Homo sapiens: one gene and its partners. The protein of the gene in region 1 purifies or fractionates together with the protein of each later gene. This does not show direct contact. Each region holds a gene or a part of one and is shown on either strand. Other genes may lie near its edges. The genes, in order: SIGLEC12, TUBGCP3 and SLC39A11.

Region 1 (3,653 bases):
TCCATCCATCCATCCATCCATCCATCCATCCACCCACCCGTCTGTCCATCCATCCATCCATCCATCCATCCATCCATCCATCCACCCACCCGTCCGTCCGTCCATCCATCCATCCATCCATCCATCCATCCATCCACCCACCCACCCGTCCATCCATCCATCCATCCATCCATCCATCCACCCACCCACCCGTCCGTCCATCCATCCATCCATCCATCCATCCATCCACCCACCCACCCGTCCATCCATCCATCCACCCATCCATCCATCCAGCCATCTACGGTGGAAAATAACACATAACATAAAATTTACCACCTCAACTTTATTAAGTTTATGGTTGTGCTAGATCTCTAGAACCCTTTTATCTTGCAAAACTGAAACTCCACATTCGTTGAACAATAACTCCGCCCTTTCCCTCCCATCCTCTTCATCCTCCTGCAGCCACTGGAAATCACCAATTTTACTTTATTTTCCTATGAATTTGACTATTCTAGATACCTCATATAAGTGAAATCATACAGTATTGCTCATCTTGTGACTGGACGATTTACTTAACAAATATCCTCAAGGTTCACCCACATTGTAAGGTGTGACAAGATTTCCTTCTTTTTAAAGGGTAATTAATATTGCATTGTGTGTATGTTTACCGCATTTTCTTTATCCATTTATCTGTTGATGTACACTTGGGTTGCTTCCACCTCTTGGTTATTGTGAATAATGCTGCCGTGAGCATGGGCATGCAAATATCTTTTCAATATCCTGCTTTTAATTCTTTTGGGTGTATATCCACAAGTAGGGTTTCTGGACTCTAAGATTATTCTGTTTTTTAATATCTTAAGGAACTGCCATACTGTTTTCCACAGTGGCTACACTATTTTACATTCCCACAAATGTCACACAAGGGTTCCCATTTCTCCACATCCTCACCAACGCTTGTTACTTTTTGGTTTTCGTTTGTTTTTGACAGTGGCCATCCTAACGCGTGTGAGGTGATATCTCATTAAGGCTTTGATTTGCATTTTCTAATAATTAGTGATGTTTTCATATGCTTCTTTTGATTTGTATATCACCTTTAGAGAAAGTCTATCAGAGTTTAAGCCTATTTTTGAAACTGTGTTGTTTCTCTGCTGTTGAGTTCTAAGAATTTTTTTAATATATTCTGGATATTAAAACTTTTTTCAGATGTATGGCTTGAAAATATTTTCTACCATTCTGTAGGATGACTTGTGTTTCTGTTAGTGATGTTTGAGCACAGGAATGAAGGAGGCTCAGATCTGACACTGACTGTGAGATTGAAGAGCACTCCAGACAGAGGGAAGAACAGGGTGAGGCTCAGGCACAGGAGGGACCAGTGAGAGGATCCACAAGGACGTCTGTGTGATTAGACAGAGGGAAGCAAGGCCAAGAACAGGAAATGACTTTGGAGAAGTTGAGCCTGTGTGTGAATCGTGTCTGGCTGCACAGGGCACTGTGAGCATTTGGAGAGTTTTGTGCAAGAGACCATGATTAACTTTTATTTTCATGGGATCCCTCTGGCTGTTGTGTGCAGAAGAGACTGTGTGTGGTAGAGGAAAGACAGAGCAGAGAAGATAGAGAGGAGGCTGGTGAACATCTCAGGCAGGAAGTGGTGCTGGCTGGAACCAAGATGGCAGTGGTGGTGGACATGGCTGTCTTATGGGTAAATTCTGAAGTTAGACTTATGAGAATTGCCAATAGATTGGGTGTACAATGTGAATGACAGAGAGGGAGCAAGAAGACTTCCAGATTTTTGCCCCAATCCATGGGTAGAATGGAGGGGTCAGTCATTGAGGCAGAAAAGATTGTGCAAAAAAAGAGATCTGGGGGAAAAAAGGAGGAGTTCAGATAGAATAGGTTGCATTTTGTGTGCCTTTCGACAAGATGTGTGGGTTTGAAGTATACTATTGGATCAAGGACTATAGTCAGCAGAGGGGAGAGGGCTGGGTGTAAATTTGGAAGTCGTCAGTTTATTGATGGCATGAAGACAACACAGTGGATGAGATTGCAAAGCAAAAGTAAAGAAGAGCTCAGGGCTGCTCTGATATTTAGGGTCAGGGAGATGTGGAGCATCTAGCAAAAGGGCTGCCAAGAAGGTAAGATGGAGCCAGAAAGCACGATGTCCTGTAGTTAAGTCAAGAAGGGCTTCTGTGTAGGGAAGGTGAGCAGCTGGGTCCTCTGCTGCTGTGAAGTCCAAGAAGGAGAAGACTGCAAGACGGACATTTGGACTCAGCCAAGCAGTGGTCATGGTGACCTTGATAACAGCAGTGCTGAGATGTGGTGTGTGTGTGAATGTTAATTTGAGTAATCAAGACAGAATGGGGGAGTGAAATCACAAACAGTTCCATGGAGCATCTGCTGTGCAGGGGAGTAGCAGGGAAGTTCAGAGATGAAGGAGAAGCCTCCCAGGCAGCCTCTGTCACTCTCCACCGTGTGAGTCTATATTAGTTTCCTGTGGCTGCTGTGACAAATTGCCACACATTTCCTGGCTTCAAACAACAAACATGGATTAACTTAAAGTTCTGAAGGTCACAAGCCCAAAATGGGTGTCACTGGGCTAAAATCAAGGCATTGGCAGGCAGGGCCAGTTCCTTCTGGAAGATCCAGGGGAGGATGCGCTTTCTCACCTTTTCCAGCTTCTAGAGGCACCTGCATTCCTTGGCTCAGGACCCTCCCTCTGTCTGCAAGTCAAGCAGCCTGGCATCTTCCAATCTATCTATGCCCTCCTCCTTTCACTACTTGTAAGGACCCCTGTGATTCCACTGGGCCCACCCAAGTAATCCAGGATAATTTCCCCATCTCGATATCCTTAACCTAATTCCATCTGTAAAGCCCCTTTAGCCATGTAAGGTAACAGATCAACAGGTTCCAGGGGATTAGGGCATGGACATTTTGGAGGGGTCATTATTCTTCCTATAAGAGGGATATAATTTATTTTATTGACTTGTCTTCCCCACACCACCAAACTGTGAGCTTCTCAAGGGCAGGTGCCACGTCTGAATCAAGGCCCTGTAATTCTCTCTCACTTGCCCTCTTCCTACCCATCTTATCATAATTCACACATAGATATTCATTTGTTTGGCAGTCATTTATTGCCACCTCCTTCAGTTAAAGAGTGAGATGCAGGGGGTCAGAGCCCATGCCTACCGTGTCCACCACAGTCCATCCAGCACCCAGCCCAGGAACTCACACACAGGAGGCCTCAGCAGGACTCCAGGCTTTGGGGTCAGAAGGAACTGACTGGATTGGGTCCCGGTATAAGAGGGAGTTTGCGCAGGGTACTTAACCATTTCTACCTCAGTTTTCAAATTTATAAAATGGAGACAATAATAATATCTTACTATGGAATTGTTGTTGGAAGTTAATGAGATTAGTAAACACCACATAAGGTGATAATTGAGTATTAGACATTAGAGGAACGTATTAAAGAGATTTCAGCAAAGTGCACATGGGATGAATGGAGGAAGGAACTCCTGGGCCTCCTTCCTGGATGCTCTCTGGTGCATGCTGGCCCCACTGCTCTGCACTGACTCCCTTCTCTTCCTCCATTCAGGGACCCCTGATTGAATCCCCGGCAGATGACAGCCCCCCACACCATGCTCCGCCAGCCCTGGCCACCCCCTCCCCAGAGGAAGGAG
Region 2 (3,653 bases), on another chromosome or scaffold:
GTTCCCAAATCCTGCCTCACCGTGCTGCCTGGGGAATCACGCAGCTGGGAGTGTCCCCTGTTGGCAGGCCCCGTCCCAGCAGGGCCCCTCCTCAACCTTCTGGAGGAGGCAGCAGCAGCTGGGCAGGGCCCCCTTCGAGCGTTTGGAATCGGGCAATGCCAGCTCCCCATGGCCAGCTCTGTCTCACCATTTTCTCTGTATTTTACAGTCCTCCAGCAGTTCCTGAGCCAACCTGCTGTATTCAGTGTCCTCATCAGCACCTACTGTGGTTTCTACTGTCTTGAGTGGACCCTGAAAGTTGACTCTCAAAGCTGCTTTACTTGGAAAGAGCCTTAGAAGGAGCTATTTCACAGTAAGATTTCAACTAGAGTAAGCGTTTCCCAAAGTGCGCAGCATCCCAGCATCCTAGGAACCATGAACGCACCTGCCCGACGAGTCCGAATGAGCGGTCCAGGCTCCTCTGGTCCGTGTATCTTCTGATTTTATTATGCAACCATCCCAACTCAGAAAGCCTGACTGCTGTGTCTCTCAAAGACCTACTTAGATTTGCCTAAAAAGTAAATACATCAAATGTTAAACATTAAAAAGCAATACTAGAGCTTTAATTAGTATTTTTCTCAAGCACTTCTACTTTTAATACTATAATCCTTAGGCTTCAAGACATAAAAGTTAAAACTAAGATCCCATCACTAAAGGGAAGGAAAGCACATTAAGTGACAGCATGATGGAAAGCACCTCAAAGGGCATGGTGAGCTCATTTCACACCACCCTGCAGTTGGCCTGCGGTGTGGCAGAGAAGGTCTGTGATCTCAGCCACGCTGTGAAAGGGCTAAGAGCCACAGTGTGACCCACACCACAAGAAATGGGCATGGTAAAGGCAGATTATGGAAAAAGGAAACAAAAGTGGGTGAAGACCCCTGACCTGGAATCCTGCATCAATGCCGAAGGTGCCAAGGGACCTCTGTCCCCTGGGTGCCTCAGCCATCACACAGCAGGATGCAGAAATCAGCTATGGGGCAGCCCCATCAGTAGACGTGAGGAAAGGAGGCACACATTAATCACAAAGGGTCCCCATAACAAAACTGAACGAGCCACAATGGACAGAAATAGAAACCAGAATTCCACAGTGCAATTTCACCTCACAACCGATTCGCAAAACCCCAGTACCACCTTATCAATCAACAGCCACTATCTGGACTTCATGACATGTTTTTTCTTTCTGAATATTTTAACTTAGATTTTATGTTACTGTACCTTTCCTTCTACTTTGTAACAATTTTCAGTGTTGTTCATTTTGATGTTTTTGCCATCTATGCCCTGAAAGACGTACAAAATGTCCCTTACCAGAGCTGCTTCTGTAATTTCCATAGTACCTGCAAAATCATTTTTTAAAGACAGTAATTACTAGACAATATTTTAACAGACAATAGATATTATGGTGCAATTAGCTTCAGATTAGATATTTGCCACCCCGATGAAATTTACTAACTCAATAAATAAGCTCAAGATGAAAAAGAGTATGAGATTAGAAAGAAACAAGGCGAGTCTCAGTCTAGAGGTTGGCCTGCTGTGCCATGAACGCACAGCTGTCAAACACGACATGAATCTGCAGCTGTGGACAGAGGCTGGACGCGGGAGCCACACACAGGGACAGGCGGAGTGGGGCAGATGGTGGAGACTACTGCGGGGGCTAATACTGTGCCAGGATGTCCTCCAGCTCTCAGATGCTCCTCACCTTTGCATTCTACGCAAGGACAGGTACAGGTAACATCCAGAGCCATTTCGTAATCAGCAGATTACGAGCCAACAGGGAAACCCAATCCTCTGTTTTCAGGACACTCATGTTTCAAATGCTGCTAACTGTAGTGTTCTCAATAAAGAAACTCAAGCTTCCTTTTGGAATCTAGCAGGGCTTTAAAACCCTCCATGAGGTATTCATCTCACCATTCAGTAATTCCTCAATGACTCTCTTCGACGTGCCAGGCACTGTGCTGAGCACTGGCACCATAAATGAAAAGACATAGCCCCTCTGTGGCCTTAAGACTTTGGTAGAAGAAGGTGACTTTTACTGGGGGCCTAACCCAGCCTTAAAGACTTTCCCAGGGAAACGGCAGGATGAAAACAGACAGGGAGAATGTGATGAGGAACAGCAAAGACGAGAGATGTGGAGGGAGGAGGCCACATGGAAAAGCAGCCAAAAAGCAGACTGTGCTGGGAGGAAAAAGCCCAGGTGGCCTGGGGTGAAAAGCCAAACTCCCCAAGGCGCCGCAGACCACCAGGGACTCTGGACTTCATCATAAGAACAAGAAGAAACCACTAAAAGGTTTGAGGTGGGGCTCCTGGGCTGTACTTTAAAATAAGGAGAGGCTGAATTCCAAGTGTTCACAGAAAAGCTGTATTAACATAGATCCTTACTCACCACCCGTATCCCCTTCTCTCCTGGACCTTGTCATGTTGCGAGACACAGCACTGGGGACACCTTTTGAGGTAGTGGCTTGTGAAGAAGGCTGATTTGCAGTTAAAGTCCATGCGAGTCGTGACCCCAACTGCTGTCGAAGGCAATCTCCTACTCCTGGAGCTTGATTAGACTGTCTAAAAAAAGAAACATGTATTATCTTCTAATAGGCTATTCGCTGAAGAGACAAAAGTGTCCCTAGAAATTTCTCTTGTATTACTATCGTGAATTACATAAATTTATAAATCTGGTATAGCTGATACCATGACTTTACCCTAACCGAATATATCAATAACAGACAGTCCCAAGTCCCTTGAACTTGGTCAAGCCTCCTTGCGACCCTTGGCCTAGCATTCGGACCCAACACAGCAGTGGAAAAATCATCTTACTGCTACCTTACAATATATATTTCTTACCATTAATATCAAAATCTATTTGGCTTTTCTTTATAAACATATAACATACCTTACCCACCCCATAACCACTTTGAAATTCTCTACTTATTTTAACTTCAAAATCCACAACTCTCGTTCACTCCCCATGTACTGAGCAGAGGAATCGAGTCACTGTGACACTGCCCCAGGCGCCTGGCCTCACCTGTCTTCAGCCTTCAGAGTGCTCACTATGAAAAGAAACTGCAATTTTCAATTAACTGCTAAAGTATACAAACGTATAAAATCTAAGGCAAATGCATATTCAAGGTCAAGATGGCTTGTCAGCAATTTTGAGACTATGTCAAAGTTGTTTTTTGAAAAATGTAAGAACCTCATAGCTGATTTCTAATAGCGTCAGTTTTGACAGGTGCAACAAAAATATCACTTCCTGGGACTACAAAACACAAAAATGAGAACCTCAGCTGCTCTACAGTTTCCAGGTGCCAGAGCTTGGATTTAGTACTGGTGCAATACTGGGGGGGTTTATCCATAATCCACTCGTGAAGTAAGGAGAACAGGAAAGAACTGAAACAGTTCTTATTTTATTCCATTTTCATCAGGAGAGAAGTCAACAACATTCACTAAAACTATGTCTCTGGGCATAGTTCTAAATTTAAGAGGATGATTCTAAAAGACTTTCAGTTCAAAGTTCTCTATACAGATTTTTAATAGGATAATAATTCAAATTCTGAGGTATAAATGAGAATGTCAATTGATTCTTTTAGCTGGAACTTAAATTCTAGATTAAATGTGTCAAGTTCTGT
Region 3 (3,393 bases), on another chromosome or scaffold:
TCATTTGCCTTTCCTTTCCTTATTCCCTCCCCCTCTCTGCCCCTTCCCAAGATCATCCCCACTGCCTCCTCAACTGTGCTCTCTGAAACTAAAAGAAAAGAAGCTAAGGGCATGTGGGTCAAGAAATGAGGTGACACCAGGCAGTGGCATACACACCTGCCCCCCGTCCCTTGATGCAGTAGACTATCGTTTTTGTATATTCTCTCTCATCCTGTCTCTCGATTCTCGGGCTGGAATGAAGGGAGAGGTGAGCTCTAAAATGTCAGTGAAGGTGATACATGCATGTCTTCACTGGCTAGCTATAGGCCAGGTGTCAGAAGGTGGGAGTAAGGGTTTGCTTTGTTCCATTTTGTTGTTGTTTTGTTTTGTTTTGTTTTTCTTTTTTTTTTTTTTTTTAATGGCAGAGTCTCGCTCTGTCACCCAGGCTGGAGTGCAGTGGTGTGATCTCGGCTCACTGCAACCTCCGCCCCCCAGGTTCAAGTGATTCTCATGCCTCAGCCTCCCAAGTAGCTGGGACTACAGGCAACCACCACTACGCCCAGCTAATTTTTGTATTTATAGTAGAGACGGGGTTTCGCCATGTTAGCCAGGCTGGTCTCAAACTCCTGACCTCAGGTGATCTGCCTGCCTCGGCCTCTCAAAGTGCTGGGATTACAGGCTTGAGCCACTGCTCCCAGCCTATTTTGGTTTTTATAGAAGAATAACTCTGAGGCTAGTTTAAAAGGCCAGATTAAGTAATATCTTTAAGAAATAATCACCCCTCTTCATTACTCACACATGGACCACAGAACGATCATAGGTGACCTTGGGCAAGTAACTTCTCTTTGCCTCAGTTTCCCCACCAGTAAAATGAGGATAATTATGATACTGACCTCATGAGGTTGTTGTTTGGGGTTCCATGGTTCATTAGTTTGCCTGGCACATAGTAAGCCCCAGTAAATGTTACCATTATTAATGGTAGTGTGCTTTCTCTTGGAATTGGACATTGCAGAGGATGCCTTCAGCCTAGCCGTGGCCTCAGGGATCATTAAGGTCTTACTTTTCTTCCTGTCCTTCTCTTCCAGTGGTAATGGGAAACTGGCATCCTGGGCCTCCATCCTGGGATTTGTAGTGATGATGTCACTGGACGTTGGCCTGGGCTAGGGCTGAGACGCTTCGGACCCCGGGAAAGGCCATACGAAGAAACAGCAGTGGTTGGCTTCTATGGGACAACAAGCTTCTTTCTTCACATTAAAACTTTTTTCCTTCCTCTCTTCTTCATCTCATTATCCTGATTGACTCTGATTATAATAGAACCATTTTTACTTTGCTTTGAGGGAGATTTTTGATTTAATGGGGAATTTTAAGGTGTCATGGAAATACAGATTCTTTGTTTTGGCCACTGAATGGACTCTCTCTTCAGTGGGATTATCAAGGAACTTCAGATCAGGGAAATCTCCACTTCGGGACCTTCTATCTGCCTCCCAACTCCTCAAGGTCACCTATAGAAGCGAGCTACCAAAAGACGTCTCCTAAGCATTTTGGTGGCCTAGTGACTCAGGGCAGAGTGGCCAGCACACCTCTCATCCGCCCCTCCTGCTCCATCACTGCTGAGCCTCTCCCCATCTAGAATGTTGGAACTGGAGCATCATAAAGATAGCAAGCTACCTTCCAAGGCCGAGCCAGCCCAGAGAGGAGCATGTCTTCCTTTACCTCCCCCTAAGGAGATACTACATGGGAGGGGGACACAGAAAAAGGGAAGGAAATTGGCTAGTCTGGCTTTTTTTTTTTTTTTTTTTAAAGGCAAAGATTGACATTATTGAAGGAAAGGGGATGAGGACAACTGTGAACTCACAGTGAGCCCTGTGGAAAGAAGAGACAGACAGAGTGTGGGTTTGTTCGGAGGCCTCTGCTGTCAATGGATTCCAGGAGCAAGGCCATTTGTCGCGCTTTCCAAATTTCTTAGGCATTTATTTTGATAAGTTTATAGCCATCATGTTTCTAAGAGACTTGGAGACACCAGCAAACTGCTAGAACTCAAACTCTTCAATTACTCAAAGAAGGAGCCATTTCAGTTAACTCAAGTGAATGAAAGAGTTTTGGAATCTGCTGTGGGTCCTTCCCTGTTGACCATTTGGTAACTTATAATCTGACAAAAACTCTTGAGCTGCAACAGGCCTTGCCAGAGGGCTCAGGATGGGAAAGGAAGAAGGGGATAGGAAAAGAAGAGGTAATTTTACATTTCCCCTTTAAAGTAAATTTTAGCCAACTCATCATTCTGAAATGTCCCTATAAAGAATGAGTCGAACTAGACCAGAAGCCAGCCTACTCCTTCTTACATAGCTTCTCCAACAGGGGTAGCAATGACCTGTCCACTTCAAACACAGATAAGGCCTGCCATCCTCATTGGTTAAAGGCACACGTGAGACTTTCAGTGGGCTCTGCTGAGAAGGAAGGCAGCCCAGGAGTCAGGTATGCAGGCATTGCATTGTCAGTGTCTGCTCTCAGAGTTTACACATTCAATTGCTTCCAAGGGTGAATCTCCTGCTCTGTGAATGCTATCAGACCCCAAAGGCCAACCTTGGGCTGGGTCTATGTACGTTCTTCCGAAGCACTGATGATCAAAATTGAAGACACATTCAGAGGTTTGATTGGTTGAGATTAACTGGTGTGGTGGTTGGTGTATGTATGTTTTATTTTTATGTCTTTGTATGTAGTTCTACATAATGCAAATTGTGCTTTCTGATGGACAAGACCTCATAACTGTGATTAATATCAATAAAAAGGGGATGTTGTGGATGACCTGTGTTACGTTCAGTACTTCTCAAAGCTGCTTCTTTGCAAGGATGATCATAAAAGAGCTAACTAAAGTTGGAACTAACACCTCCCTGATCCAACACTAGGAGAGGCAAAGGAAAGAGCTCAGATGGGAAGGGCTAGTCAGATTCTTGGTTGCAACAACAGCATCCAACAGCAGCTTACTTAAACAGAAAAGGAAATGAGTGGAAGCCTGTTAGGGAATTCACAGGCTCTTTCGGAGAATCGGGCTTGAAAATGGGTTGGATCCAAGAAAGCCAGAGGTCTGGGGCCATGACCCAATCACACCTGGAGAACAGCTTGGTTTAGATGCCATGGTCCCCAGAGCTGGTCCCTAGATCCTGGACACCACTAATGAAACTGCTGTACCTTGATGCCACCACCACTGCCGCCACAAGAACAAACTCTACACTGAGCTGGATTCTTTGTGTCCTGGCTCCACATTCGAAGTTCTAGATCAGAACATCCAGCTGCCAGAGCTTAGATCCTGTGCCCATGAACTAGCTGATCTTGCCCCTTCCCAAGACTCGCAAAATAGTGGATTTTCCAAATTTGGGAATGAGTTCATATGGTGCAGAGCCAAAATAGAAAAAAAAA

What was found.
Region 2: the proteins of SIGLEC12 (region 1) and TUBGCP3 purify together in Homo sapiens (affinity purification with mass spectrometry; 2 studies listed by BioGRID and IntAct, with this or other methods). This does not show direct contact.
Region 3: the proteins of SIGLEC12 (region 1) and SLC39A11 purify together in Homo sapiens (affinity purification with mass spectrometry; 2 studies listed by BioGRID and IntAct, with this or other methods). This does not show direct contact.

The regions. Positions count from the first base shown.
Region 1 is NC_000019.10:51,491,745-51,495,397, reverse strand, and holds part of SIGLEC12 (sialic acid-binding Ig-like lectin 12 isoform a precursor), read left to right. Parts: intron 1-3,568; coding exon 3,569-3,653. UniProt on the Homo sapiens protein: Putative adhesion molecule that mediates sialic-acid dependent binding to cells. The sialic acid recognition site may be masked by cis interactions with sialic acids on the same cell surface.
Region 2 is NC_000013.11:112,553,633-112,557,285, forward strand, and holds part of TUBGCP3 (gamma-tubulin complex component 3), read right to left. Parts: intron 2,593-3,653; coding exon 2,420-2,592; intron 1,374-2,419; coding exon 1,255-1,373; intron 551-1,254; coding exon 425-550; intron 1-424. UniProt on the Homo sapiens protein: Component of the gamma-tubulin ring complex (gTuRC) which mediates microtubule nucleation.
Region 3 is NC_000017.11:72,645,334-72,648,726, reverse strand, and holds the end of SLC39A11 (zinc transporter ZIP11), read left to right. Parts: intron 1-1,064; coding exon 1,065-1,143; 3' UTR 1,144-2,778; downstream 2,779-3,393. UniProt on the Homo sapiens protein: Zinc importer that regulates cytosolic zinc concentrations either via zinc influx from the extracellular compartment or efflux from intracellular organelles such as Golgi apparatus. May transport copper ions as well.